Homo sapiens: one gene and its partners. Changing the gene in region 2 together with the main gene of any one other region gives a genetic interaction. Each region holds a gene or a part of one and is shown on either strand. Other genes may lie near its edges. The genes, in order: ETV1, ATR, ALKBH4 and PARP1.

Region 1 (7,200 bases), on a different chromosome or scaffold from region 2:
TTCCATTTAATGAAGATTAAAGATTTGCAAATCTTATGTTTATGTCTTTGACTTGTTTTTTAGAACTCTTTCAAGATCTAAGTCAATTACAGGAAACATGGCTTGCAGAAGGTAAGGCAAAATTTGCTTTAAAAGGGGGGAAAGCAACTCTAGAAGGAGAAAGAAAAGAAGTCCTGAACTTGCTGTCTTAATATTCAGCCCAATTAATTGAGCTCTAAAAGAGCCACCTCATGTGTCATGCATACATTAGAGCCTCTGATGAGTTTGTCTTTGGGGACTCTGGGGCTGTACTACCCAGTGTCATCACAAATTACCAGGAGAAATTGCTTCCAGCTCACAATCACATCTGCTTTTGGCAAGAACTAATGCACCAAGACTTCAAGTTCTAAGCCTCTGTTCAGATTTTAATTGCAATTGATCAGGTTTATATTATTGTACCTCCAGAGACCTCCTAGAGCCAGAACCCGGCTGGCTTGCTGTTTCCTTTAGAGCAGCGCATATCATTATTTGGTGTTCTGGTGGAGGACTTTTCTGATGGCAGAAATTAGTTTCTCTGGGTTCATCAGGACGGGATGCTTCAAGATTTAAGTGCAAGTGTCTTCTTTCCACCTTGTTCACAACACAGAACGTTAGGTGTGTATCTAATGCTTAGGAAATCTATGGGTTTAAAATAAATGGGAGATATGAGGATTTTAAAAATGTTTTCCATGTGTTACTATTCATGTTATGTTTGCTGAAATTGACCTTTGCTATTTTGTCAGTTTTATTAGGATTTATTTAATAGAGCAAGGATACATTTAAAGGCATTACTTTCATTTTGAATTATTTTTTGTTAAAATTTTGTGGTGCAATCTGTTATATCTTTTATCGTATGCAACTTTATAGGAAAATGAGATTGCTTCATAAAGCTTTATACAACTTCAAAAATGCCTAATGTTGAGGGACTTCTGTTGGCATTCATAATTTGAAATTTTTCTTTTGGATTTGGCATACAAATGTGAAACATTAATTTTATGGTGTGGTTTGTGGGAAATACAAAGAGAAAAATTATAGATATTTAAGCATTGAGTGTATAACAGTATTATTTGTGTGTTCACATTATATGGGAAACATGCAAATTTTGGAACAGATTTTAAGATGGTTAAAAAGGAGAGAGTGGGTCTCTTTAAATGGAACCCAGGTGTTACTGTAGCTACTTTGAGGCAGACTGACGTGTTTTATCGGTGGTCTTGAATGCAGTTGATCAAGTTGCTGTTAGCATGTAAAATAAGTTTCTTTGTTTTGCTGATAGTCTAGTTCTCCAAAGAGCTTTTTCAATCTTTATCAATCTTTAAAGTTAAATAGCTTTCCTAATAGTCCTTTGAAAGGATGATTGTATTTATATGTTAATGAAGGTAAGACTTACTGAAAGTTTTGGCTATATTTAAGGATCATTTTGCTAGTCTGTGTAAATGAAACTTACTGCAATACATTACTTTTTATTGCAACATAAGTCATATTCAGATACAAGTTTTTCAAGGAAAATTTGCATGGAGATTCTTGTATTAACTTATGCCTATTAGTTTTGCAAAGTCAAAGGTTGTGAGAACATTACCTTTATGAGAGAATTTATTTGCTTCTCCAAAATAACTTAAAATATCTATTTTAATTGTTCTGGAAGGTTTGTTGGTTCTTAGATGTTTAAATCTCATTGATTCCAAGTCAGTGCACTTGCTGGCAGATTTTGAATGTGCATAGCAACTCTGTTCCTGGAATTTTAAAATGTGGAATCTGTGACAGACTCTTACCATTTTATAATCAGTTTCAGTACTTTTTTTTTAACTTTTGACTTACTTGTTTTGTGTCTTGTAGCTCAGATAAGTGATTGCAATAATTTATCCAAATTTATCTTTTAAAACTCTGCAGAGAATAGTCTTTCTCCGGGATTATTAACATACCTGTAAATCAAACCTGAAGATTTAGCACTACAAAAAATAATCCTAGAAAATGATCAGTGTATTTGGAAGAACATGGACCTTTACTTAGAAAAGAATTATAATTTCAATTAAGTTCAGGAATTAATCATGAGTGTTTTATATGAATTCCCAGGTGGACTACTATTTACAAACTATGGATAAGATTTCATTTTAGAATAATTTAAGCGTTTTCAAAACAGTTTACGTTAATTTATCTAATCACGATGTAAGTAAAAAGTTGTTAACGTGATGTTTAAAACCTAATAGTGAGAAAAGAGATCTTTTTAACTTCTTGTTTCTAGACTCCACTTTTTTTTTGTTTTGAGAAATTAAATATATTATTTTGCACTGATATTTTAACTTGACTTATCCCACCTCTTGAACGGTATTAGCTAAGAAGAGATCCCCAAATTACCCTAGTTTATTTGTAGTGAGATGTGTCCATTTATGTCTTTCTGGACATCCAGAAATTAAAACATTGCCAAATTGGCAGACCATGAACCGTTTACATATTTCTTTTCATAATGCTCCATAGCCAAGAAAGTGACCATGGAATTTTAAGACATCTTGACCCTTTTAAAAAAGATCATTGGCAGTTAATCAAGTTTCTCGCATGAGTTAGAATTCCACTGGGAAGTTAAACAGGTCTAAAAACCTTATTAGACATAAGAGTCAAGTTAGTTGTCATATGTCATATGATAATTGTGTTTTTGAAAAATTATAAAAGTCCTCAAATATTTGTGAAATGATATCTTAGCATGTTTAGTTTTTTTTTTTCTGTAAGACTATTCATAAATTTTACCCCAAATGCAACATATGGATTAGTCATGGGTAATTATTATGGATTATAAAATTTCTTTTATTTCTAAGGGGAAGTTGGAATAGATAAGGCAGGACTGTTTGAGGGTTGGGATGGGACCAGTATTTTCAGTTCAGTAAAGTCCTCTGTAAAAATATACTTGCATTCTACCAAGAAAGTTAATTCCCATACAGAGATTTAAATATGTTGGTGGAGAATATAACTTTACATTAATATCATTTCCCAAGAAATAACACTGCAATTTAAAGGTTTTTTTTTTAACATCTAAACACAGTTTAAAACAATTATCTTATTCTGAAGAAAACTGCAAAGTTAATGTTTTCAGTAACCACAGTAGTTAAAAAAAAAAAAAGTCAGGGAATATGCCAATTTTAAAATGTTGCCATAGTCACTTTATGTTATAATTTTACTATGTGCAATTCTTTATTGATTCTTTGTCTTTTAAATTAGACTGCTACTGACAGAAAGGCAATTGCAATTATTTGATCCCATGAAATAATGAGTTTAAATATCAATTCTATCAACATCATGGTGATGTCTTATTCTTAACAACCTGAAAGTCATAGTTAAAATGGAACCTCTTGTGTATCCAGAACAAAAATAGAAAGATGTAAAAAATTAAGACAGGATTGTATTCTTCCAAATTTGCTTCTTAAAGCTCACCTACTAACACAACTTAAAGGGAAATAATAATTTTCAGTATATATCTGATGTAAATGTGTAGCTGCTCTCTTGACTGTTATTTTGTTTCCGGTCTAGATGTTCTTTCAGGTTCACTTTCATCAACAATATTCTCTGTCTTCAGGGTAAAATGTTTTCCAGTGGTTTTGTATTGAGTCAAGTTTAGTGCTGCCTCCACACTTCGAGTAGGAGTTTTATCTGCAAGAACAACCTTTCTACAGCAAAGCTTATTACATCATACGAATAAGGGTTTTTTCCTTTTGGTTTTATGTGACCTTCAAACAACAGTCAGGTCAACTTAAAAGCAGAGATGTCATTACTTTCCCCTCAATTCGCTTTAATGGCTGATGGTAAATTTATATTCAAAATCATAAGTAATATGTGCTATTGTTACTTACTATGTGTAATGTCATCCACAATATACAGTAGTCATAATACACTCATTTTTATTTTTCAGAAATCCTACTTTTTTTTAATGGAACATAAAATTGGTTATGTGCTCATGAATTATTTTCCCCCACTTGGTGCAATAAGGATTAAAGGCTTTAAAAACGACATTATTTTATGTGGTTTACATAAAACATGAATTTAGAATTAAGCATTGAATTACAGAACTCCATATAATCTCTTATAATTGAACAACAATAATTTCATGTGTGTGTGGGCGGGGAGAGGATGGGCTATCACCCCTCTTTTTGATGTGCTAGAAAATAATCTAAAATATGAGAGAAAGACTTCCCATTTGAGTTTGACTTAAAGACAGCAGATAAAGTATATTTTATTTCTAAACATTCATTGGAATTGCATAAATGTTTTTTCATCCATGTTTTATTTACAAAATAGAAATTTTTTTTAAAAATAGAAAAATAGGATTTGGTGTAGTATAGTGTAGTTTTTCCAGAGGATCCTAATAAATAAAATATTGCTAAGCTTTTCTATTTCAGTTATAGGAAATGTGCAGTTTGTTACATTTTGTAGTATAACTTTATTCCCTTTGATTTGTGTATAATGTTATAATAAAAAATAATAATAGAGTCAGACCTCTGTAGCATTAGAGAAAATATTTGGCTAGAAACAACGGCTAGTTGGCTCTGAGCTTCCCTTAAGTTTTCAAGTTACTGCAGGTCAGTTTTAGTTAGGAATTGAAGCTGATTTGACACAACGACTAAAACTTTACTGTTACAGTAAGAATATAGAAATATGGAAATAATGCCTTGATCAAGTATTAAAGGTGTTTTGTCATTGGAAAGTTGCCTCCTTTTTGTATGTTTAAATATGTTTATACTTCTGCATAATTAATGCTTTTACATTTGTACAATCATTTTAATGTTAAAAGTGGATGTGGTATAAAACCAAGCTTAGTGGACTCATGATTATTTTGTTCCATGGCCTGTAGCTTCAATTTAGGATTAAACAGCATACCACTGTAGGAAGGTGGATTTTTCTTTTTTTACTTCTTATTTGAAATAAAATTTAAATTTCTCATGAGAAATTTGTTTCTAACTCTTTGATTCAAAGAGAAATGCTACAAAGTTCAGCAAACAATCTACAGTATTCTTATGATAAAAATAGTTGGATAATAGAAAAGAAAAATAAGGCATTTCCGTAATGGTTTTTCTTTTCCCTTTCTTGAAACCTTCTTTGCATCTTTCTGTCTTTTCCTTTTTTCTTCCTTAGTTTTATACATGCAAGTTTCTGTAACAAGTTACTCTGTAAAGCAGGATGCATGTATGTATTTGTGTGTGTGTATATATATATATGTATGTATGTATGTATGTATGTATGTATGTAACTTTGTAAACGTCATTTATTTAAATGTGTTCCTTTAATGGATCTGAGCTCTGAGACAGAGCAATAAAATTGGTGTGTTTATATTGCAAGTCCAAGTTTACTTGCTTTAGCTCCCTGGAAGGGTGTGACATGAAAAGATTGTGGTTGGGCCACATGGCTCATATGCTGGACTGTGTTTTTGTGAATGGAGGCAGAACTCCAGTTCTGCCTGCTTGTCTTGAGGAATTGCTGAGGAGATCAGCTGTCTCATTCACGGGCAGAAAGAATGACTCATACATCTTCCGCCTTGTTTGGCTCCAGGTCATTGTTACAGTGGATAGAACTGGTTTTAATTAAATATTAACCCCTTTTATACTTGACGTTTGTTTTATTTGTAATTCTTCCACTTTTTCCTTAGCTTTAAAAAAAAACCCAACAGGCACATAGTTTGTAAGAATAGGAGGGTTTTCGCTTCCCTGCAGCCAACCTTGGAAACTTTTTCATCGCTTACTTTTTCTTAAGTAATGATTATTATTTCATTTGAAAGTTAAAAATAAGCATAACATAAAGGCAAGCTATATTTAAAATTACCCATCTCTAAGGCAATATTAGTTAAGAAAAGTATTAAAATTAAAAAGGAGAATTGGTGAGTTTGTGACATATAGGTCATGATTAATATTTTTATGAATTTCTTTCTGATAATATGCATTGATACGTAGCAAAAAGACAGAAAACAGTAAAACAACTTTGGATAATAATCTAGGTAAAACAAATAGCTGAGAGTGCAGATACTGCCCTTTTAAAGCCGACATCCTGAGACTTGATGGCAACTGGTCTATTAACGTGCAATGAACTGATAGAGCCGCTCCAGCTATTACCAATAAAATCCACATGCTTAATCTCCTTGAAAGCATTTTATTGGTCTTTTGGTATATACTTTCTCCCCTTCTCCTTTCCTCCTCTTCCCCTTCGTCTTTAATTACATAGTGTGGGGAAACATTTTCATTCCCCAAAGGTGATTATATCCAGCACAGTTTATAATAGATAGTAGTGGAAAAAACATTGCTTTTTTAGGCTGACCTCTATTGTTAATTTTCAACTTTGGAGTTGGTATGGCTTGCTGCAAGTTTTCAGGCAGCTGCAGTTTGCTCCTTCACAGTATTCCCCTGAATTGAAGAAAAAAGGAAATGTATGATACAAGTGTGGCAATACTTTGTCATATTTTCCTTGCCTAGATCCAACTTGTGTTTTTAGTTAACTGCTTTCCGTTTACTCTAACTTGAAATTAGAGGTATACTTAAGCCTTTGTCTATTTAAGTAGCATGCTGCTTCGTTTGGTCTATTCAGTTTCTTAAGATTAGCTTCTGTGAAAATGTGAGTCATATGTTTTTTGTTAAAATTCTGTAATATGTTCAGGAATAAGTGTGAAGTATTTATTCAGTATGTTAAGGAGTTAGAACAGAAATAGGAATTCTTATTCTTACTCTTTACAGATTGTTATCGTGCAGCTATTTTCTGTATATTTGCGAGGTATAACTTCTAGATTATTCTACTCCTAAAATTTGGCCCTTTTTTCCTCACACATATTCCAGCACACATCACACACCCATCAGTGAGTCTGTGCTGCTCTTGCAGTGACATATATTAGGAAGTTGCAAATCTGCTTACGATGCTACAAAAACAAACAAAAGACCTTTAGAACATTCATACCATCATATTCAGTTACAAGTATACTTTTGTTACTCACCAGCTATTTTTAACTTTTCCTGTAAAGGGATATTATATTTTTATTAGATTCTTATAAATGTTGGCTTTTTAAAAGCCCAGTAATTGTTGTGGTTGATATATTTGCATCTCAATAGTTATATCTGTTTAGCTGTTAATTCTGAGGGAAAACCAAAACAATGATATAATGGGAAAAATGTGCAGGATTTGAATCTGTGTACTTGCTGTTATTTATTAAATATATATTTA
Region 2 (7,200 bases):
ATTTTAGCCATTCTAGGGATGTGAAGTTGTATCTCATTGTGGTTTTAATTTGCACTTCCCTAATGACCAGTGATGGTGAGCATCTTTTCATGTCTTTGTTGGCCATTTGTAGATCATCTTTGGACAAATGTCTATTGAAATCCTTTGCCCACTTTTAAATTGGGTTTTTTTATTCTTTTTTTTTTTCCTTTGAGACAGGGTTTCGCTCTGTCACCCAGTCTGGAGTGCAGTGGCGTGATCTTGGCTCACTGCAACATCTGCCTCCTGGGTTCAAACGATTCTCGTGCCTCAGCTTCCTAAGTAGCTGGGACAGCATGTGTGCATGAGCCACTATGTCTGGCTGATTCTTGCATTTTTAGTAGAGATTGGGTTTTACCACGTTGGCCAGGCTGGTCTTGAACTCCTGACCTCAAGTGATCCTCCCACCTTGGCCTCCCAAAGTGCTGGGATTATAGGCATGAGCCACCATGCCTGGCCTATTCTTGAGTTGCAAGAGTTTGTTTCTTTGTTTGAGACAGAGTCGCCCAGGCTGGAGTGCAGTAACGTGATCTCCACTCACTGCAACCTCCGCTTCGTGGGTTCAAGTGATTTCCCTGCCTCAGCCTCCCCAGCAGAGAAGGGGTTTTGCCATGTTGCCCAGACTGGTCTTGAACTCGTAAGCTCAAGCCATCCACCTTCCTCAGCCTCCCAAAGTGCTGGGATTACAGGCATGAGCCACCCCGCCCAGCCAAGTTGCAAGAGTTCTTTACACATTTTGGATACAAGACCTTTTAAGATATGATTTTCAAATATTTTCTTCCATCTGTGGGTTGTCTCTTCACTTTCTTTGATGATGGCCTTTGAAACATAAAAGTTTTAAATTTTGATGCAGTCTAATTTGTTTTTTTCTTCTGGTTATTTTTGGTGTTTCTGTTGTCATATCTAAGAAACTATTCCCTAATCCAAAGTCATGAAGATTTACACCTATGTGTTCTTCTAAGCATTTTTGACTTTTAGCTCTGCTATTTAAATCTTTTATCTGTCTTCAGTTATTTTGTAGATATGGTGTAAGGTAGGGGTCCATATTCATTTTTTTGCATGTGCATATCCATTAGTCACAGCACCATTTTTTGAAAAGAATATTTTGCCCCTCGTTTAATTATCTTGGCTTTTTTGTTGAAATGGTCAATTGATTTTCAGCAATATTCTGTTGATCTATATGCCTAACCTTATGCTAACAACACAGTGTTTTGATTGTTGTACCTTTGTAGTAAATTTTGAAATCATAAAGTGTGAGTGTTCCAACTTTGCTTTTTTTCCCCCAAGATCATTTAGCTATTATGGGTCCCTTGTATTTCCATATTAATTTTAAAATCAGCTTGGATTTTGATAGGAAGGACATTGAATTTGTAAATCAATTAGGGAGTATTGCTGTCTTAACAATTTGGGAGTATTGCTGTCTTAACCATGTTAAGTCTTCTGATCGATGAACATAGAATGTTTTTCCATTTATTTGAATTTTATTTTTTTCATCAATGTTTTGTGGTTTTTAGGGTCAAGTTTTATATTTAACTTTTAAAAATTGTATTCCTAAGTATTTTATTCCTTTTGATTTTATTCTAAATGGAATTTTTCTTAATTTCATTTTTGGATTGTTCATTGCTAGTGCATAGATATATAATTGATATTTATATATTGATATTGTATCTTACAATCTGCTGAATTCATGTATTAGTTCTAATAATTATTTTTGTGCCTTCCTTAAGATTTTCTCTCCACAATAACATGTCACCTGCAGATACAGTTTTTCTTCTTCCTTTTTAATATCAATGCCTTTTATTTCTTTTTCTTGCCTACTTGCCCTAACTAAATCAGTGTCGAATAGACATGCTAAAAGTGGACATCCTTGTCTTGTTCCTGATCTTAGGGGTAGAGCAGTCAGTCTTTGACTTTTAAGTATGATGTTAGCTGTGGGAAACAGATTGTTTGAAAGGACTTTTAAAGCTTATTTATTCACCTTCATTATTTAAAAGCTGTCTATCGGGCCGGGCGCGGTGGCTCACGCCTGTAATCCCAGCACTTTGGGAGGCCGAGGCGGGCGGATCACGAGGTCAGGAGATCAAGACCATCCTGGCTAACACGGTGAAACCCTGTCTCTACTAAAAATACAAAAAATTAGCCGGGCGAGGTGGCGGGCGCCTGTAGTCCCAGCTACTCGGGAGGCTGAGGCAGGAGAATGGCGTGAACCCCAGGGGGCGGAGCCTGCAGTGAGCCGAGATTGCGCCACTGCACTCCAGCCTGGGCGACAGCGAGACTCCGTCTCAAAAAAAAAAAAAAAAAAAAAAAGCTGTCTATCAGACATTATGGTAGAATACTGGTTAGTTGGACATATGCAAAAGCAAATTCTCTGAAATAGGAAGTATATCATCATGTGGAACAGTTACCAAGAGCCCCTGTGTTAGTCTGGGTCAGTCAAGAAATAATTTCTGGAGGAAGTAGTTGAGACCTTAAAAGTTAATAAAGTTGACCATGCAAGGGAGAAGAGAGTGTTCTGAGTGATAAAAATATCAAGGCAAGTGAAGTCATGGCCTGCCTGAGAAATACAGTATGTATTCCAGAGGGTATACTTCCAGGAGGTGGTGCTAAGAGATGACGCAGGACAGGTAAGCAGGGGCTAGATTATGAAGGTCTCACATGGGGCCTGTTACTACATTATAACTTTGCCTGCAGAGCAACCAGAAGTCATTGAGGATTTTAAGAAGGAATAAAAAGGGGGCAAGGGGTGGAAAGAGATAATCTGATTTGTACTGTAGAAAAAATAGGGTCCTAGTTTGGGCCAACAGCCAGAAAACTAGTTAGAGGTTTATTGCAGTAACCCAGGAAAGGATGATGGTGTACTGGATAGTGTCACGGCCGTAGAGACGGAGATAACTGAAGAGATTCCAAAGAGATTTAGGAGTTGTAATTGCATGTTAGAGGAAGACGGGGTGAGGATGATTCCTAGATTTTTGTCTAGGGCAAATGGGTGGATGATGATTTGGGGAATACAGGAGAAATAGTTGGGAAAAGGTAATTAATTTTATTTTGGAGATACTGAGTTTGAGGTGTTTGGAACATATCCAACTGGGTATTTCCCATAGGTAATTGGATTTGATGTTTAGGGTGCAGAAAAAAGGTCTGGGCTAGGTCTATATGGTAGCTATAGATGTTATATCGTTATTGAAGACATGGTAAGGGATAAAATTCCTTCATTCAAAATATAGTCATTTACCAGTTCACAGTATACACTTAGAGATGGCACATAGAACCCATCTTACTCTATTCTCCAAAACACCTCTGACTCCCCTCTATCTTGCCTTTTTTCCTGCCTTCCCTTCTCTTACCCTCCCCTCACACCAAAACAGAAATTTCACATAACTTAATGAAGACGTAGTAATGTGTATTATAAGAGTATTACCATTAGCTTCTCATCCTTCACTTAAATATTGATGTCAGCAAGATTTCTTCTTGCAAAGATAACATCATACCATAATATTTGTTTCAATTTTAGTGTCTTAAAGACTTTTCTACATGATCCTCTTGTGGAATGGAGTAAACCAGTGAAAGGGCATTCCAAAGCGCCACTGAATGAAACTGGAGAAGTTGTCAATGAAAAGGTTAGTAGAAGGTATAGCTTGATATGGGCTGTAGTCCTCATCTCTACAAATGAACTTGATATGCAGCTATAGTTCTCATCTCTATGCATGAGAACTGCTTGGAAATACTGTTAGTGACTATTGATTACTCTGAAATCTAGTTCTCTAGTATCACAATGCCATAAGTTTTCTTTATTGTCAGTAATGTTAACAGTATTCGCATTTGTATAATAAAAGTTCATGGCACACTTGTTTAACCATAGACAATTCACAGTTATGAGATACAGTAGGAAAAACTATAGTACAAATTGCCTGAACTTACAGAACAACAGGTCTGAGCTTTAATATCATGATACCAGTATGTCACAAGCTATGTTAACAAATGCAGCAATTCACTTCTTACTTAGTTGAAGCTGCAAAGTTTGCAGATAGTTTTGTTGTTGTTGTTGTGGTGGTGGTGGTGGTTGTTGTTTTTGAGACAGAGTCTCGCTCTGTCATCCAGGCTGGAGTACAGTGGCACGATCTTGGCTCACGGCAACCTCTGCCTCCTGGGTTCAAGCAGTTCTCCTGCCTTAGCCTCCCAAGTAGCTGGGATTATAAGCGTGCACCACCACAGCTGGCTAATTATTATATTTTTAGTAGAGATGGGTTTCACCATGTTGGCCAGGCTGGTCTTGAACCCCTGGCTTCAAGTGATCCACCCACCTCAGCATCCCAAAATGCAGGGATTATAGGCATAAGCCACTGTGCCTAGCTCAGATAGTTGTTTTTAATAAGTTAGAATAGATTGAGGATTCGTTTTTTTTGGTGGGGGGCACTCTTACATCTTTAATAAGTCTTGTACAGGCTTACTAAATACAATGAATTATACCAACTATATGCTAATAAAGATTAAAAATTTACATTCCAGTTAACTACCTAAAGAGTTTAAGTCCACTTTCATCCTACTGATATAGCTCGAGGAAGGCTAGACCTGTACGCCCCCATCCTTCATGTCATCCTTAACCCTTTGTCTTGAGAAAGAAGGTTTAGCTGCTTCTTTAGTTCTTCTAAAAGAACTAAAAGAAAAATTTCTTTTTCTTGCTCTATTATCTTCATCTGTAGGGTGAGATTAATATTTCCAGAATTGTGGAAAAATTCACTCTGTAGCAGTTGAAGAGCAGATGGTCTCTGGGACATGTTCCTTTTCGTTAAGTGATAGATATACTTGGCTTGTACTGGATACCTTTTACTGAGGGATTCCAATATCTGACCAGTTCTTGAACCTGTTAAAACTTCTGCTCGCTCCATTTCTGTTCTAAACAGCTGAAAGAGCTCTAGCAGGATCACACTCAAGCTATATACATATCTAACTGGACAAAGCCAGCCCTGGTCTCTACAAATAGTTTTTGTTTTTTTTTAATTAGCTGGGCTCAGTGGCACACTCCTGTAGTCCCAGCTACTTGGGAGGCTGAGGTGGGAGGATCACTTGACCCCAGGAGTTGGAGGCTGCTGTGAGCTATGATGACACCACTGCACTCCAGCCTGGGCAACAGAGTGAGACCCTTGGCATCATACTCAGATCCTTCCAACTGCTGGGATGAAGCATACAGACAAGTGCCCACTCTGGATATAGGTGTTGGTGTTCTCTTTCTGTTTCTATGGGTCCAGTCTGTGTTCTTTTGTAAGATGTCTGGGCAAGCCAGACCAAAGTCTCCTATTTTTACTTGCTGATCAGGGCCATGAAGAAAAATATTTCTAGGCTTCAGATCTCTGTTTACAATACCCATGTTATGTATGTAAAACACACCTTCCACTAAATCTTGAAAATTTTTTGTTGCAACACTGGCCATAAGGACAGGCAAACTTGCCCACACACTCTTGGCCCTGTTTGTTTCTCTCAGCTAGCCAGTCCCACAGCTGGAGCTTGCACACCTGCATCTGGATGTGCAGCATCAGGTGGTACTGCACCTCGATCCCCAACAAGTTGAAGTTTTCTTTGGAAGATTCCTCAGTGGATGTGAAATTCTCCTCTAGGAGGGAATTACACCTGAGCAGCAGGGGCTGTTTCACAATTGACCAGGTAGACAAACCAGCCAGGCCATTTTCCTGGAGCTCCAGGGATGATTCATATTCACTGGTGTCTCTTAAGACGGAATTGATGGTGTAGTTCACAGCTTGTTGTTCTGATTTTGAGTGTCAGATTCTGCAAAGGGTTTTTCTTTTCTGAGGTGAGCTCCGCGAAGATAATGGGTGAGCTGCTATTTTCACCATTTTTAACACCGTATTGGTATCTGTCTGCTTGGTCGGAGAACACTTCCAGAAATGGCAACTGAACGGAAGCTCTGTCTGCTTGTGGTTGGACCACTTGAACATGTTCTGTCCACGCAGTGTGATAACGAATGATATTAGGGTGCTGAAGACCTGCCAGCACCTTCATTCCCCGTAGTTCTTTCATGTAATGTGTTTTTGTTGCACCCTTAATCAGGATTTTTTAAATTGCATAATACTGACCATCTAATTTATTCCTGACCTTGTATACTCTTCCATATCCACCTTTTCCTAAGATGGCAAGTTCTTCAAATTCATTTAAGTAACGTGAAGTTTGTGCTTCAAAGGGTACTTCCCTTGATCTGATTTTCTGGATATGAGAAATAGCCTCACAAGGATCCTGATGAACTCTCTCTTTAGTGGACCTCATTAAGTGAGTAATAGCTCTGTGGTGATGTAGTCTCAATGAGCTAAACTTGTCACAAGTGAAAGAAGACAGCAGCCCCATTTTGATAAAGGTCTGGCAAAGTAACTTAAACACTGTCTTGAATGAACTGGGTTTGGTTCACGCACATGGCTCAAGTGCTTCACCAAAGAAATAAGCGGCAGCTGGTTTGCAACTGCAAAAGGGAAAGTTGGCTGTTGTAGGGGTTATTTTAATACCTGGAGTTCTGCTGGAACATAAGTCATATTTGGAGTCCAGGCTCTTGGCGGAAAAGTCGATGGCAGATGGCACAGCAACAGTCTCCACCCCGTGGCCCTCCTCTTTGTGCTCGTGGGCTGCAGCGCAGCCCACCAGCCCACCCAGCACCACCTCTGAGAATTATTCTTCTAATAACGTTATTCTTCCTTTTGCATTCAGATATGCTTAAGAAATTGTACAGTTCCAAGTAGCTCACTTAGAACACCCATTTGCATGTACTAACATAATGTAAATATTAGGCAGTACAGCATTGTTATTTGAATATTCATTGAAATGTTTAAGTCCTAAACACTTCCAAAGCAGATTTAAAAAATTATTTTTCTAGAATTGTAATGTGTAAATAATTCCCTGGTATTTCACGTAGTCCAGAAACATGTCCAAGCAGTTGATGTTGAATCAATCTTGCGAGCCTCCAAATCAGTATCACAAGCTAACTGTATTTGTTTAATTTCTTCTTTTCCTGTATTTGCTCTTACAAAAGGGGTATTGGTCAGTAAAATGGTATTAACATTTATTAAATGTCAAAATATAAAGAAAGGTAGTAATTCCAAATTATTAACATCTGTTTTTGGTTTTATGTTTCTTCTTTTTAGGCCAAGACCCATGTTCTTGACATTGAGCAGCGACTACAAG
Region 3 (7,868 bases), on a different chromosome or scaffold from region 2:
CCTGGCCTGGAATTCGTAGTCCTGGTTGGGCACCCCGATGTCCCAGAGGATGATCCGCTTGTCATAGGAGGCCGCTGAAGAGGGGGTGGGGTAGGGGAGAAGTGGCCCTGAGATGACCCTGCTCCCTCCTGCTGGCTGCATCCCAGGCTGAGCCCACGGTCCCAAGGCCAGCCCCTCCGAGGCGGGGAGGGCGGGCCGAGGCTAGGAGACAGGAACACTCCTGGGCCCCCAATCCCTGTTTCCTCCATCTAACCTGATGCGGTGGCTCCAGCGGCCACTTCCTGTGGCTCATCCATCCCCCTTGACAGGGGCGCCACACCCGGGGGCAGGGGCATCCCCCCAGGTCACTGACAGGGGACAGAGTGGCCCAGGCTGTTGGAAAACTCCGAGGCCACAGAGCAGGCTGTGGATAAAGCCAGGGTTGAAGCGACATGGCTTCCTGCCAAAGCTAGAGTCGGAGCGGTGCAGACTGGGGCCCGGCAGGCGCCCGAGCTCACAGCCATCCCAGGGAGGGGAGCGTGGAGGCTACTGGGGCAGCAGGACAGGGGTGCTTGGGGGTCCCAGGGGTGAAGGGGAGGGGCTTACTGAAGAGATGGGTCTCGTGGGCGGGGCTGAAGCACAGGGTGGCGATGGCCTTCTTGTGGGCTCGGATGACCCCGCAGCAGAAGCCGGCACGCACGTGCAGCAGCCGGACCAGGCCCCGTAGGCCTGCAGCCGCCAGCACACTCCAGCGCTTCTTGTGGCCAGCCTGTGTGACCACCATCAGAGCGGTCCAGGCCACAGAAAAGAACTCCTGGGCGGGGGTTAGAGTAAACAGTCACTGGGGCAGAGCTATTGGTGTGAACACGCGGGTAGCCCGGGCCTGGGGGAGGGAGCCCCAGCATGAAAGAAAAAGGCCATGGGGCAGGGGGCCGAGCCTGCATCCATCCCCATGCTGCTGTTCAGGAGTCAGTCGGGCACCCTTGCCCAGCAGGGACAGGGCCTTGCACTCACCTCGCCGGGTGCCTTGTACTTGTGGAGCACGATGCCCGTCTGGCAATCAATTACGCACACAGCCTCCCCGCCGCACGTGGCCACGGTCTGGGATGTGGCCCCTGAGTGCCCGGTTTTGAGAGGTCGGATGAGCAGAGACATTTCCCATCTAGGTCCTCCCTGCAGCCTCCTCCTCCCAGCCTTGATGGCGCCTTTTAAGCTCTGTCTCCTGATCCCCCACCCATCCAGGCGGCCCTATTTCCAGCGGCCCTTGCCCCGCCTGCCCGCCACCATGTACCCTCCTCCCAGGCCGGCTCGAAGGCACAGGCCCACAGCTGGGTCTCGAGGTCCTGGGGGCTGTTGTTCTTGCTGTGGCACTGCAGGAAGTGCAGGGGCTCCAGCTTCACAGCAGGCTGTGGGGGGAGAGAAGGGTCACAGCTGCCCAGCCCCGACTCATCTGCCACCTGCTCCTTGCCACCTCAGCTCACCTGGCTGCCATCGGAGCCTGCCACAGGGCTGCCCTCCACCTGGGCCGACGGGGAGGCACACGCCCGCTTGCTGGGAGAGAGGCTGAGTGGGACGTCGTCTGGCCGTTTCAAGGCCGCCAGTCTGGCCTGTGGAGGGGGCCTTGTGACCATGGGCCTGTCTGCCTGGGGCTTCCTTCCTCCCCATCACAGGCTGGACCCCACCTCACTGCGGATGCAGGAGGCCCAGGCTGGCCCGGGGTCACCTAGGGAGTGAGCCAGGACCTGGGGTGCTTCCTGGGCACATGCCCAGGACGCCTTGGTCTCCTGAAGCTTCTCCAGGGAGGAGGGACTGGGCTGGCCTCAGAGCCCTGGGAGCTGCACTCACCCTGGGCTTGTGGGCAGCTCCAGCTTCTGGGGGCTTCTCTGGGCTGTTAGCCTTTTGCACCTGGGTCCTACTGGCGGCCACCAGCTCCTCAGAGATCATCCGCACCTGGGTGGGGCCAGGCCATCAGGAAGCTGGGCAGAGTCCCAGGTGCCCCCAGCCCTGCCGATGCATAGTCAGGGGGAGCTTATGCTTCCAGAGTTGGGGAAGGGCCTCTCCAGCCAACAGGGCTGCCCACCCTGACTCACCCCACTCCCACAGCCCCTCAGCCCTTCATGGCCAGGGACCTCCAGGCAGCTAGAGATACGAGAGCCAGTGACTCCCTGCACATTGGGACAGGGACATACCCGCCACTGGGTGAACTCGCTGAGGGACTCGGGCCCGTAGCGGACATCCCTGACAGCCGACTTCACAAAGTCCGCCTGGGCCTTCTCAGCCTCCTCTTCAGGACCCAGTGTGGCCATGAACTTCTCCCAGTGAGCTGTGACCTGGTGCAAGAGGGACCAGATCCAGGCCCGGCCCACCCCAGCTCCTCCGGACCCAGCCCTCCATCTCAGGGAATCTCAATCCCGCCACCTGCTGGAAGCCTCCTGGAATCACAGCCTCATAAAACACACACACACACACACACACACACACACACACACACACACACCCCACACACACCCCAGCAACAACCCAGGTGCCTACACACACACACACACACACCCCAGCAACAACCCAGGTGCCTACACACACACACACACACACACACACCAGCAACAACCCAGGTGCCTATAGTCCCAGCCACTGGGAGGCTGAGGAAGAAGCATCGCTTGAGGCCAGGAGTTGGAGCCTGGGGAACAGAGCAAGATCCCATCTCTACAAAAAATTTTAAAATGATCCAGACGTGGTGGCATGCGCCTAAAGCCCCAGCTATTCAGAAGGCTAAGGCGGGAAGATCGCTTGAGCCCAGGAGTTGGAGGCTGCAGTGAGATACGATCACACCACTGCACTTCAACATGGGCAGCAGAGCGAGACCCTGTCTCTAAAAAAAAAAAAAAAAAAAAAAAAAAAAAAAAAAAAAGGTAAAAAAGAAACACCCCAGAAAAAGCTACTTAGAAGAGTCAGGCCGGGTGTGGTGACTCATACCTGTAATCCCGACACTTTGGGAGGCCAAGGCGGGCAGATCACCTAAGGCCAGGAGTTTGAGGCCAGCCTGGCCAACATGGTGAAACCCTGTCTCTACTAAAAATACAAAAAAAATTAGCTGGGCATGGTGGCAGGTGCTTGTAATCCTAGTTACTCGGGAGGCTGAGGCAGGAAAATCACTTGAACCTGGGAGGCAGAGGTTGCAATGAGCCAAGATCGCATCACTGCACTCCAGCCTGGGCGACGGAGTGAGACTCCATCTCAAAAAATAAATAAATAAATAAAGTAGCACATCAGGCTAGGGGCTGTTGGGGCAAAGAGCCTCTATCAGTCACCCTCCTCAACATCCTCCTGATGTCCAATTCTATCATTCTCCCAATGCCCCCACAGCTCCTAAGCACACAATAATCCTCTCATCCCCTTACCCTGCTGGTCAGCTCCCGATTCAGGTTCTCCACCTGAGAGTAAGTTGAGGACGCATCCTTGCCATTGACCTTACGGAGCGTGGGCAGGAGAAAGGAGACTTTCAGGTTGTCATTGACCTGGGGAAGAGAGGGTGAAGAGCAGTGGCTCAGGAGATGCTGAGCCTGAGCCCAACAGAGTCCTGGCCCCAGGTATGAAGCTGGTGGGAGGCTCCCACTTACCGTCAGGAAGGGGTTGCCCTCCAGGCTGAGTTCCTCGAGCTTGGGGAACTGGCACAAGGCAGTAACATCCCCCAGCTGGTTGTTGGCGCAGCGGAGGACACGCAGGTGGGACAGGCCCAGGTTGTCCGGCAGCGTCTCCAGGTGGTTGTTAGACAGGTCAAGCTCCTGCAGCTGCGTCAGGCGGCACAGGAGTTTGGGGTCCAGGTGCTCGGAAAGCAGCTCCAATCCTGACAGGCTGGAGTTGGGGGCAGAAGGCTTAGGGGGCGGGCAGGCTTTGCACCCTACACCAATCTGCCCCGGGTACCTCAGAAGGCTTTTTCACCTGACATTTCTCGTACAAGTGTAGCCGCCCCGCCCATCCCCCCGTTACTTTATTTTTAGAGACGGGGTGTCACTCAGTCGCCTAGGCGCGATCATAGCTCACAGCTGCCTCCAACTCCTGGGCTGAGGGATCCTCCCGCCTCAGCCTCTCGAGTAGCTGGGACTAGAAGCGCGCGCCACTACTCCCGACTCCACACCACTTAACAAAAAAAAAAAAAAAAAAAAAAAAAAAAAAAAAAAAGCTGCAACTACTTTAGGACTCGGGGGCATCCTAGCCCCCTCTAGGATGCTCTTCCTGATCCTTCGGGGGCTCGTCTGTGCTTCCCAGGCCCTCTAACGATAGCGGCAGGCTGTGCCCCTAACTGTCCGGGCTCCCTTCAGGGGATGAGGCCCCTCGGGGCTCCCGGCGAGCGGGTGGGGCCACGATCTCCCAACAAGAAGACATTTGGACCACTCTGCCGAACCCAGAGGGCGATAACGGGGACAAGCGGGCCGTTGGGGAGGGTCCCCGCTCTTCTCCCCGACCGCCCGGCCCCGAGGACACAGCCTCACCCGCTGCCCGGCTCTTACTCCAGACTCCGGATCTTCCCCAGCCGGTCGCTCTTGGGGCGCCCGCGCTGCATTAGCAGCCGCGCCGAGAGGGGGCCCATGGCGAGGAGGCGCAGCCCGCGCTGACCCAGTCGGCCACCCCGGCGTGTGGCGTCGCCCTGCGTCTCCTGGAGCCCGGCACTGGCGTCCGCGGTAACTGAGCCCAGGAGGCGGCGCCGCGCGAGCCCGTGGGCGTTAACGACCGGAAGGAAGCGGAACCCAGGCCTCGTGCCCCCGCCCGGCGCGGACTACAACTCCCAGCGGCCCCCACGGCCGCGCCTGCGCACTGGCCACGCGGACGGCGCGATGGCGGCGGCTGCCGCCGAGACCCCCGAAGTCCTTCGGGAATGCGGTTGCAAGGGCATCCGGACCTGTCTGATCTGCGAGCGGCAGCGCGGCAGTGACCCGCCCTGGGAGCTGCCCCCAGCGGTAAGGGGTGGGAGAGGGGCCGCGCCCACAAACGTCGCTCTGCATCTGGGGAAACTGAGGTCCAGCTTGGCCATGATAGGGGCCGGGATCGAAGCCTGTGAGGGACCCTTACGGTAGGGGTGATGCAGGGTGAGGAGATGAGGGCTTTAAGGAGCGGGCTTGGGAGTGGGGAAGGAGCTGGAACGTGGGTGGGTTCGATTACAGGTCACCTCGGGGACTCTGGGGGGATCTGCCTGTAAACCTCGACGTAGCCTCTCGGGTCTGGCGCTGGGAGCTTCACGGGCCTGCAGGGAGATGACACGGAAAGGGTCGATCGAGGGTGCTGAATACCAGTCCAACGGTGCCTGAAGGCCGTGGACTGCAATGGGCAAGGAGACAGTGAATTCCAGTTAACTAACGAAAAGGAACTCAAGGATCGCTGCAACCCAGGAGCTGGAGGCTGCAGTGAGCTATGATCGAGCCACCTCACTTCAGCCTGGGCGACAGAGCGAGACTCTGTCTCACAAAAAGAAAATAAATAAAAAAAGAAAAAGAACTCAGCGCCTTTGGGCTGGCATGGAAGGACTGTGGTTGGTTGCAAGGGCATTCCAACCCAGAAAACTGCGTGGGGTAGGAAGGTGGATTGGTGATGCCTCAGGTGAGAGAGATGAGGCTGGAGAGGTTGTGGGGGGGGGGAGGTCTGATCACAGATGCTCCCCGGTGCATCAGCTGAGCAGGCTGGACTTGTCCCAAAGGCCCTGGAGAGCTCTTGAAGGGTTTTAAAGGAGTGATGAAGTCAAATGTGAATTTTAGAAAGATCCTGGGAAGGGAACGGGCAGATATGAAGGTGTGGAGGCTGGTAAGCCAGTGAAGACTGCCCCAACGTCCATGGTAAAAGTGCCCAAGGTCCTATGGAAACAGCATGGCATGCCTCATGAATTAAACATAGAATTACCCATGATCCGCAATCCTGCTTCTGGGTATATATCCAAAGGAACTAAAAGCAGGGTCTGGAAGAGATATTTGCACACCCATGTTCATATTCACGACATTATTCATGACAGCCCAAAGATGGAAGCAAACCAAGCATCTATCAAGATACCTGGGCCGGGTTCAGTGGCTCACGCCTGTAATCCCAGCACTTTGGGAGGCTGAGGTGGGCAGATCACCTGAGGTCAGGAGTTTGAGACCTGCCTGGCTAACATGGCGAAACCCTGCCTCTACTAAAATTACAAAAACTTGCCGGGCTTGGTGAGGCACATCTGTAATCCCAGCTACTCGGGAGGCTGAGGCAGGAGAATCGCTTGAACCCAGGAGGCAGAGGTTGCAGTGAGCCAAGATCGCACCACTGCACTCCAGCTCAGGTGACAGAGCAAGACTCCTTCTCAAAAAAAAAAAAAAAAAAAAAAAAAGAGATGACTTGATCCACAAAATGTGGTGCATACACATAGTAGAATACTATTCAGCCTTAAAAAGGAAGGACAGGCCGGGCACAGTGGCTCACACCTGTAATTCCAGCACTTTGGGAGACCGAGGCAGGCAGATTGCCAGAGCCCAGGAGTTTGAGACCAGCATGGGCAACATGGTGAAATCCCACCTCTACAAAAAAATTAACCATACATGGTGACACGTACCTGTAGTCCCAGCTACCCAGGAGGCTGAGGTGGGAGGGTTGCTTGAGCCTGGGAGGTCAAGGCTGCAGTGAGCTGTGATCACGCCACTGCACTCCAGCTTGGGCAACATAGTGAGACCCTGTCTCAAAAAAAAAAAAAAAAAAAAGGACATTTTGACATATGTTACAGCATGGACGAACCTTGGGGACACGATGCTAAGTTAAGGAAGCAGTCACAGAAGACAAATACTGCATGATTCCTGTTGTGTGAGCTACGTAGGGTAGTCACAGGGACAGAAAGTAGAAGGGTTGTTGCCAAGGGCTCAGGAAGGGGAGATGGGGACCTGTTGTTTAATAGGGAAAGAGTTTCAGTTTTGCAAGATGAAAAAGTTCTGAATGGTGGTGACGGCTGTACAACAATATGAATGAACTTAAGAGTTTTAATTTGTGGAAGGGGCCAGGTGCGGTGGCTCATGCCTATAATCCCAGCCCTTTGGGAGGCTGAGGCAGGAGGCTCGCCTGAGTCTAGGAGTTTGAGACCAGCTTGGACAACATAGCAAGACCCTGTCTCTACAAAAAATTTAAAAATTAGCTAGGTGTGGTGGTGTGTGCTTGTAGTCCCAGTTACTTGGGAGGCTGAGGTGGGAGGATTGCCTGAGCCCAGGAGGTCAAGGCTGCAGTGAGCTGTGAGCGCCACTACACTCCAGCCTGAGTGACAGAGCGAGACCCTGCCTCAAACAAAAAAAAAGAAAAGAAAAAAATTGCGGAAAGTCTGACCCGTTCCAGTGGCCATGTGGAGGTGACATCTTCCCAACCCGATGGCTATGGAACAAGGAGAGTGAGGTATCCAGGATCTCAGGGCACTGGGGCAGTTCCTCACTGGCTTTCCAGCCTCCACCCTTCATATCTGCCCCTCCCCCCTCCAGATCTTTCTAAAATTCACATTTGACCTCGTCACTCCTTTAAAACCCTTCAAGAGCGCTCCATGGCCTTTCGGACAAGTCCAGCCTGCTCAGCCGACACACGGGGGACTCCCAGTTTTAATGTTTCCCGTGGGAGGGCCCCAGGAGCAGGAGGAGATAGTGCCAATCTCAGGAGGGGTCTGAGCTGGAGTCGGTGGCTGGAAGTAAAGCATTGGAAGGGGCTGAGGTCCCTGGAGGGAAGAACAGAGAAAGACAGCGGCCCACAGTGAGTGGCAGCCCAGGGTGTGAGGAGCCTGGAGATGGAAGAGGAAGAGGAGACAGGCCACAGAGCCCAGGGCTGAGTTCTGGTGGCCTCCGAAGTCCTCACTGGGTGACTCCGGCCAGAACCTCCACACCTCCTGCCCATGATAGTTATGGTAC
Region 4 (7,200 bases), on a different chromosome or scaffold from region 2:
TATTTTTGGGGGAGAATTTGTGAAGGACTATTATTCTCCTTTCAACATTTGGTAGTATGTTTACTATGATGCCACCTGATCCACGATGTGGATTTTCTAGAATAAGGTGTCCCTTCCTTTTCCTAGAAGCAGACAGTGTAAGGGCATTATGTGGTTACCTGGCCATAGTCAATCTCCAGGGGGTAGAACTTTTTGGGATACTTCGTGAAATTTTTGGAGTGCCAAGCGTTCCCGGTTTTTTCTTCATATAATTTCATGAAGTGCTCAATGGCATCCTCCTTGGACGGCATCTGTTCCAGTTTGTTGCTACCGATCACCGTACCCACACGGCCCCAGGACCTGAATATCCAATACCTGCAGTGGGAAGGAGGGTGTCAGATACACATGTGTGGGTCAGCTGTCCCATTTCAGGAGCTCCCCTTTCCTGCCATTACATTCACGTGGGGAAGAATTTTACACACCCCAAAAGGATGGTGATTAACACAGAACAAACACAACTGCTATAACAATAAAGGGTCTTTATTTTACTTTTCATTAAACTTTCAAATCATATTGACTACAAAAAATGCCAAAGAATAGTTTAAACTTGGTTCTGGCAGCCAAGCCTGAGGACTGAATCCTGGAGTCTGGAGACCTTTGCATAAAAATGATTCTAGTCCTCTCCCCAAAGAAATACAAAGTACTATCTGGAAGTCATGTGTTCAAGGAGTCAACCCTTACAGCTGTACCCTAAAAATAATGAAACTTTCAACTCAGATCCAAGGCCAAGACATGATGAAATGAGGGGGGCAGTGGCAATGGCTCCTCAGGTCCGGTGACCTAGAGATGCAGGCTGTCATGTTCAAATTCCATCTCAATTGAGGGTACACATCACACACACCCAGCTGCTGTGCTGCTCAGCTTTGGATGAGCTAATTTTTGATTAACTCAAAGCAGAGGTAATGCAACACTTAATTGTCATTTCATAATAAATATATATATATCATAAACCCACATACAAGATTTGTGTACATTTTAAAGATAGAACTACAGATTTCAAAGAAAATTTGGGACTCCCTGGCCATTCTCTGGGCTACTGAACAGGGGTATAAAAATTCATTCTCTGCTTGGTTTTTCCTGTGAAAATTTTTGAGAAGCACTACCTTGATCTACGTTGAAAATTTTTTCTGACCCTAACAGCCTACACCACCCTTTCACTTAACACCAGGAAATCTAAGCCACCAGAAAAATGTCCACATCCACAATCAACGTTAGAATTTAGTAAGAGTTCCTTCCACATGCCTTTACACTGACACATAAATGCTATTTTGTGGTGGCTGTACTGAGGGGCAATGAACTCACTAGATAAGGACCACTCTGCCTAGAAACATAAGGACAAAAGCCAGCCCAACCTCTCACCACCTCCCAGCTGCTGTACCCCACCATCCACACTCCAACCTTGCCTGTCTCACCATGTTAAAAAAAAAAAAAGGCAAATCCAACCTCTTTAGTTACTAGGGAGTTTGAACATTAAAGAGTAAGTTCAACGCTTGCCAACCTTTATTTGCTTCAAAGTTTTAAAACATATGTAAAATCAGAAAATCTTGATTCAAGTAGCTGAAAGAAAAGCCAGCTGGGGCTGGGTGCAGAGGCTCATGCCTGTAATCCCAGCACTTTGAGAGGCTGAGGCGGGAGGATCACTTGAGTCCAGGAGTTTGAGACCAGTCTGGGCAACACAGCGAGGCCCGTCTCCATAAAAAATAAGGCATGGTGGTGCGCACCTATAGTCCCAGTTACTCAGGAGGCTGAGGTGGGAGGATTGCTTGAGCCTGGGAGGTCAAGGCTCCGCTGAGCTGTGATTACGCCACTGCACTCCAGCCTGGGTAACAGAGCGAGACTATTTCAAAAAACAAAACAAATAGTTGCAAAACAACAACAAAAAACAAAACACCAAACAAAAAGAAAAGCCAGCAGAAGAATATGTGAAACCATACCTTGGGACAACTGTACAAGGACAGCAACGCTACTGGTTAGTAAGTGGCTTCTTTCTCCCCTTTAAGCAAAGGCCTTATAATTTGTTTTTGATCTCTGTGATTAGATTTCATTCCCCAGGCACTGGGCCTAACGGGTTTCACAAGGCTGATGGCACAGCACTAACCAATGCAGGACGGGCCCATGTCTCTGCACAACCAGGCTACACCTGCAGAACTCACCTGTTTTCCTTGTCGTCCTCCAGAAGCTGCAGCTTGTAGTAGGAGTTGGTTCCTTTAACGATGTCCACCAGGCCAAGGGTGGCACTGAAGACCTTCCCACCTTTCTCCAGGACATGCGCAGAGTGTTCCAGTCCTGTCCCAGAGGAAAAGCACCTACAGTTTTCTCTCCCCTTGAGGTGCTAGCACTCTCACGGAGAAGGGATCTGCAGGCCTGAGGTTCACGCCTCTTGGATACACTACCACCACCCTCGGGAGGCTCCCCACAAATGTGTGTTCTCAGGACTGGGGGAGCTGGTGAAGGAGGCCTGAGTGAGGACAAAGGCACGACCACACTGCCCCAGGTATGCTGCGGGCATTTGGATGTGTGCTCCTAGTCAGCTGGGGGTTGGGGGGCGGCACAGCCCACTTTGCTGGCAGTCCTGTTTGCTTACCAGAATCAGGATCCACAGCTGCTCCTCCTTTAAGAGTTAATTTCATTCTCTTTTCAGATTTGTTGATACCTTGGAGGAGAACAGAAAAATGTAAACATGAAGTTAAATGTAACTAAAAAGTAAGGGGAAGGTAGAAGGCAAATGAGTTGTTCTCATTCCCATCATCTGTCAACTCGGCATCTATATACACACTACTCCCGCCACCCCAAAGCGCCTGCCATTCTGTGTCCTGCTCTGCAGCACTCAACAGGCCATGTCAGGGACACAAAGGGAGAGGTTCCGTGGACAACAACCTGGCCACCAATGTCCCTGGCTTTTGGCCCTGGAGGGGGCAGCTTGGGGCCCTCACCTTCCTCCTTGACCTGGCCCTTGCTTTTTTTGGAGAGCGCAGCCCCTGACTTCCCTCTTGGGGCCACAACTTCAACAGGCTCTGCCTTCACCTCTGCCCCCCAAGGGGACAAGATGTGCGCTAAGAACAACTCCTGAAGGCTCTTGGTGGAGGCGGAGACGTCCTGGAGGAAGTCCTCAGACACAACTCGGATGTTGGCTTCCTTTACTTCCTCCATCTTCTTATTCATCTTTTCCACCTCCTCTGTTCAAATTGAAAGGAAAAAAAACCAAAATACAAGTTTAAAACAAAACTGAAACTTCAAATTACTACAGTTATATTTAGTGTGTACTTCCAAACCCTCAGCATTCACAGCTCTCCTTTGCTTCCAAGTCTAATGCTCCCAAGAGTGTTTTTATCAGCAACATTCCCCCTTTTCTAAGGTATGATGAGCCAGGGCAGCCTTCTCCAAACCATTCTACAGCACGATGTTAACAAACACTCCAAAGAAAAAACACCCTGATGTCAAATATGTATGGGAAATCCTGTATTCTATTTCTCTGGTTCCTGAAGACCTACAGTGGTAATCAGCATAATAAACCCACACAGAAACCTGTTTAGCTTTGTTTTACCCTACCTTTTCCAAACATACTTGAACCTTGAACTTCTGTTTTGGCAGATATCTATGCACATCTTACAGAGCAGTGCGAAGTGATGAGAATACAGGTTGAGCAGCTTCCCTTATCCGAGATGCTTGAGACCAGAAACCTTTCAGACCTTAAAATACTTGCTTCATATTTACTGACTGAGCATCTAATCCAAAACTCTGAAATCTGAAATGCTCCAATGAACATTTCCTTTGAGCATCATGTTGTCACTCAAAAAGTGTTGAATTTTGAGGCAATTTGTTTGGGCTTCGGGACTAGGGAGACTCAACCTATAGTAGCTTACCGTCTTTAGTTGAGAACACGCAATGCATGTGAATCTACAGTACAAAGCAGCAACACTGAGAGCAAATACTGGTTTCCCTTCATAAAGAACCACAGCGATGATGATGTTAAGATCCAGTTTTTCAGCGCTGTGTTCGACTCTTCCTCACTTACTCGTCATCACAATCATAAGATACAGAAGCATTGTCCCTGTTGCACAAATTCAGATTCAACTCACTTTTGGTGCTGATGCACAGGGAAGCCTTGTTGGCCGTCCCCGTCAACTTCCCCCCGAGTTTCTCAATCATGGCCTTCACTTCATCCTTGTTCCGGGACAGCTTCCCGAGAGTCAGGATCTTCATGTTGGATAATGGCTTATCTGGGATGAAAGGAGAGAATCATTCAGCAAGGCCAGCTCTGGTGCTGCTCCCCAGTAAGGGGAGGTGGAGGAGCAGGTGAGCCAAGCAGCGAGCTCCTGGGAAAAGCCTATGAAAATACACTCGCGAGAAAACAGGACGGGACAGCAAGCTGCCACCTGAGTACCTACAGATGTCCCTCAGCACAGAAAGGACTGGGCAGGGAGCAAGCCACAAAATGCCACTCCATGGCCAGGCCAGCCTCGCGGCGTGAGCCAGGCAGCTGCGGGTTACCCCAGGTCCGCGCCAAGGTCAGGCTAGGAAGGCTGCATCTGCGGACGAGGGACCAGGAGGCTGGAGTCGGATGGGAAGAGGGGTAAGGTCACATGAACCCCCAATTCCTTCTGTTATTCTCCCAAACAAACTGCAATTCTTATGAATTAACCCCATTTTAAAATGAGACATGTCCATGATAGTCCCTCAAAGCAGTGGCCAGCACAATCACACGGAGCTGAGCTAACTGATTCTAGGAGAAAAGCAGCAGCCTGGTGTGCACTGACCCAGGCCAGAAAGGCCTGGACAGGGGTGTGCCTTCTGTTCACAGCAAACAACACAGTGCAGGTGACACCCGTCCAGAACTGGAGTAGCTGCAAGGAAAAGTCCTTCCTGCCTTCCCTGTGAGGGCAAACAACTAGGAAACACTGACAGTTTAACTGAAACTGCTGAGGTCTCCAGAGAACAAAATTATTGACTCATGCTGAACTGCAAGTCAGGGGAAAGCAGAGGAGGGAACCCTCCATGGAGGGGTCAGAATGCCAGCCCCCAACTGGCCCTTCATGTGGGCACCTGGACCCAGGCTGCCAGCAGCACAGTGGACTCGGGATGACCACCAGCACACACTGCAGTGACCACTGGTCCCCTCTCAGGATATGAAAAGGAAGTCAATAACAGGTTTATGTTCAAGGAAGGAACCCTCATCCTCCACCCACCAAACTGTGACCTTCACCAATAGACTATGCCACATGTCTCTGAGTAAACAAGCAGCGGGTCACTTCTCCTGCCAAAAAAATACGTTGCTCTCACTGTCTTGGTTGGCTTGGGGCATTTCTCACTAGTGCTGATTAGTAACTCCCTCTGCATACAACAGAGACTTGAGCATCACACCAGGGCCCGGATGACTGGTGGGCGCAGGGCAGCCTGGAGAGTGAGGCCTGGGATGCTCCTCTGCAGTGCAGTCAGGCAGGAGACCCTGCGCCCAACTCCAGGTAAGGCTGTCGACCTAGCCTTTCTTAGGAGCCCCTCTCCTAGCCTCCCAGAGTAAGAGCTGCTTGTTCTTCTACAATGTTTATTTTATTTTTAGAGATAGGGTATCACTCCATCGCCCAAGCTGGTGTGCATTAGCGTGATCATAGCTCAGTGCAGCCTTGACCTCCCAGGCTCAAGGGATCCTCCGCCTCAGCCTCCTGAGTATCTAGGGCTAAAGGCACATACTCGGATTAATTTTAAACATTTTTGTAGAGATGGGGTCTCACTACATTGCCCAGGTTGGTCTCAAACTCCTGGCCTCAGCAATTCTTTTGCCTCAGCTTCCTAAAGTGCTGGGATTACAGGTGTGAGTCACTGCTCCCAGCCGATGCTATGTTCTTAACACTCTCCCACCTTGCTGTGGTCAGGGGTGTAACAAGCCAAGAGAAGAGGCCTATCCCCTGCAGGGCAAGGCTTCCCCATGGTGGGGTCAGCAAAGAGAGACCCTTGACGGATACTTTCTTCACCAGCTCCACACCACCAGCAAGTAGTGGGCAAACAATTCCTGCAAAGCAGCTCTAAGACCGGGGTCCCAAATGCTGTACCTGCTGAAGCAGAGGAGTTCACAGCAGCAGGAGCCGAGGCTGTGGAGGGCGGAGGCGTGGCCGCCACGGAGGCGCTGGTTTCTGGGGGGAATATACGGTCCTGTTTTTTAACCTTCAATTTCTTGAGGTAAGAGATTTCTCGGAATTCCTAAAAAATATTAAGTTTTAGTTAAGAAGCCAGCTCTCCCTTGAGGTAACCACCCCATAGACCAAAGAGGATTTGGCTTGTCCAAATCAAATAATCTCTTTTTTTCTTCTTACAATAAAGAGTAACAAAAAATAGAAAAATGTGAGGCTTTAAGGATGAAAGACAGTATTATTGCTGCTACAGTACTTATTTCCGGTACTTTTACATTTATAATAGGGCTAATATTGTGGCTGCTTTAAGAGAAAAATCTTTCCCTAAAAAAAACAAAAACAGAAACCAGTGGCCAATTCGGTCAGGGAACCACCACTGGAACTGCTGTATGACTACAACCTCCCTGGCCTCATTCCTGAGTTGCTCCCTTCGAGAGTTAATAGGCCTCTGTGGGATCACATGCCTACTCCAGAACTCCAAGACCCCGAATACTATATACACACTGGGAGATTATTACCCAAAAGGAAATCACAGTATTTGCTTTCCTTTTTAGAAGAAGGAAAAATGAATGCAGGGAGCCCTATGGTATTCACTATAAATTCTTCCATCAGCACAATTCACTCTTCACTCTGACTGATTTACAAGGGGCCTTGCTCTAAATGGTCACTCAATAAGTATCAAATACATGAAGCTCAGGGAAAGATACTGTGCTCCCAGGTCTTCATCCAATCAAGAAACTGCCCTTTCCAGCTATGCCTGTGTTCAGGATGTCAGTTAGATACAAGAGGTCACAGATTGCTTCCGACACACACAGACCACCTAATATGTGCTACCAACCATAGTCTGGTTAAAAAGACAGTTTCTGCTCTTCAGAAAGTATCTCATTCGTGACTGAGCATCAGCTATAGGAAGGTGAACTTTAACAAAGGAGCTAAGCTATGCCAGAGGTGTGCCAAGGTGATGTGAGACAGGGAATGCTAGCATGCACTTGGAGGCAGTGATCTGCTAAGCCCACTGGGAGCTGAAAACACAGGG

Evidence for each region.
Region 1: of ATR (region 2) and ETV1, extra expression of one rescues a mutant of the other (dosage rescue), as found in Homo sapiens cells (one study listed by BioGRID).
Region 3: changes in ATR (region 2) and ALKBH4 together harm fitness more than expected from each alone (negative genetic interaction), as found in Homo sapiens cells (one study listed by BioGRID).
Region 4: changes in ATR (region 2) and PARP1 are lethal when combined (synthetic lethality), as found in Homo sapiens cells (one study listed by BioGRID).

What each region holds. Positions count from the first base shown.
Region 1 is NC_000007.14:13,979,549-13,986,748, reverse strand, and holds part of ETV1 (ETS translocation variant 1), read left to right. Parts: intron 1-63; coding exon 64-111; intron 112-336; exon of another isoform or gene 337-572; coding exon of another isoform or gene 573-633; intron 634-7,200. UniProt on the Homo sapiens protein: Transcriptional activator that binds to DNA sequences containing the consensus pentanucleotide 5'-CGGA[AT]-3'. Required for olfactory dopaminergic neuron differentiation; may directly activate expression of tyrosine hydroxylase (TH).
Region 2 is NC_000003.12:142,449,563-142,456,762, reverse strand, and holds part of ATR (serine/threonine-protein kinase ATR), read left to right. Parts: intron 1-3,529; coding exon 3,530-3,635; coding exon of another isoform or gene 3,636-3,707; exon of another isoform or gene 3,708-6,160; coding exon of another isoform or gene 6,161-6,190; exon of another isoform or gene 6,191-6,204; intron 6,205-7,160; coding exon 7,161-7,200. UniProt on the Homo sapiens protein: Serine/threonine protein kinase which activates checkpoint signaling upon genotoxic stresses such as ionizing radiation (IR), ultraviolet light (UV), or DNA replication stalling, thereby acting as a DNA damage sensor.
Region 3 is NC_000007.14:102,461,780-102,469,647, reverse strand, and holds the start of ALKBH4 (alpha-ketoglutarate-dependent dioxygenase alkB homolog 4), read left to right. Parts: upstream 1-4,784; 5' UTR 4,785-4,811; coding exon 4,812-4,934; intron 4,935-7,868. Other genes in the region: LRWD1 (leucine-rich repeat and WD repeat-containing protein 1), read right to left, coding at 2-74, 586-793, 994-1,094, 1,271-1,385, 1,461-1,586, 1,825-1,929, 2,169-2,309, 3,378-3,494 and 2 more. UniProt on the Homo sapiens protein: Dioxygenase that mediates demethylation of actin monomethylated at 'Lys-84' (K84me1), thereby acting as a regulator of actomyosin-processes.
Region 4 is NC_000001.11:226,376,950-226,384,149, forward strand, and holds part of PARP1 (poly [ADP-ribose] polymerase 1), read right to left. Parts: intron 6,235-7,200; coding exon 6,087-6,234; intron 4,260-6,086; coding exon 4,119-4,259; intron 3,216-4,118; coding exon 2,973-3,215; intron 2,693-2,972; coding exon 2,624-2,692; intron 2,326-2,623; coding exon 2,193-2,325; intron 355-2,192; coding exon 159-354; intron 1-158. UniProt on the Homo sapiens protein: Poly-ADP-ribosyltransferase that mediates poly-ADP-ribosylation of proteins and plays a key role in DNA repair.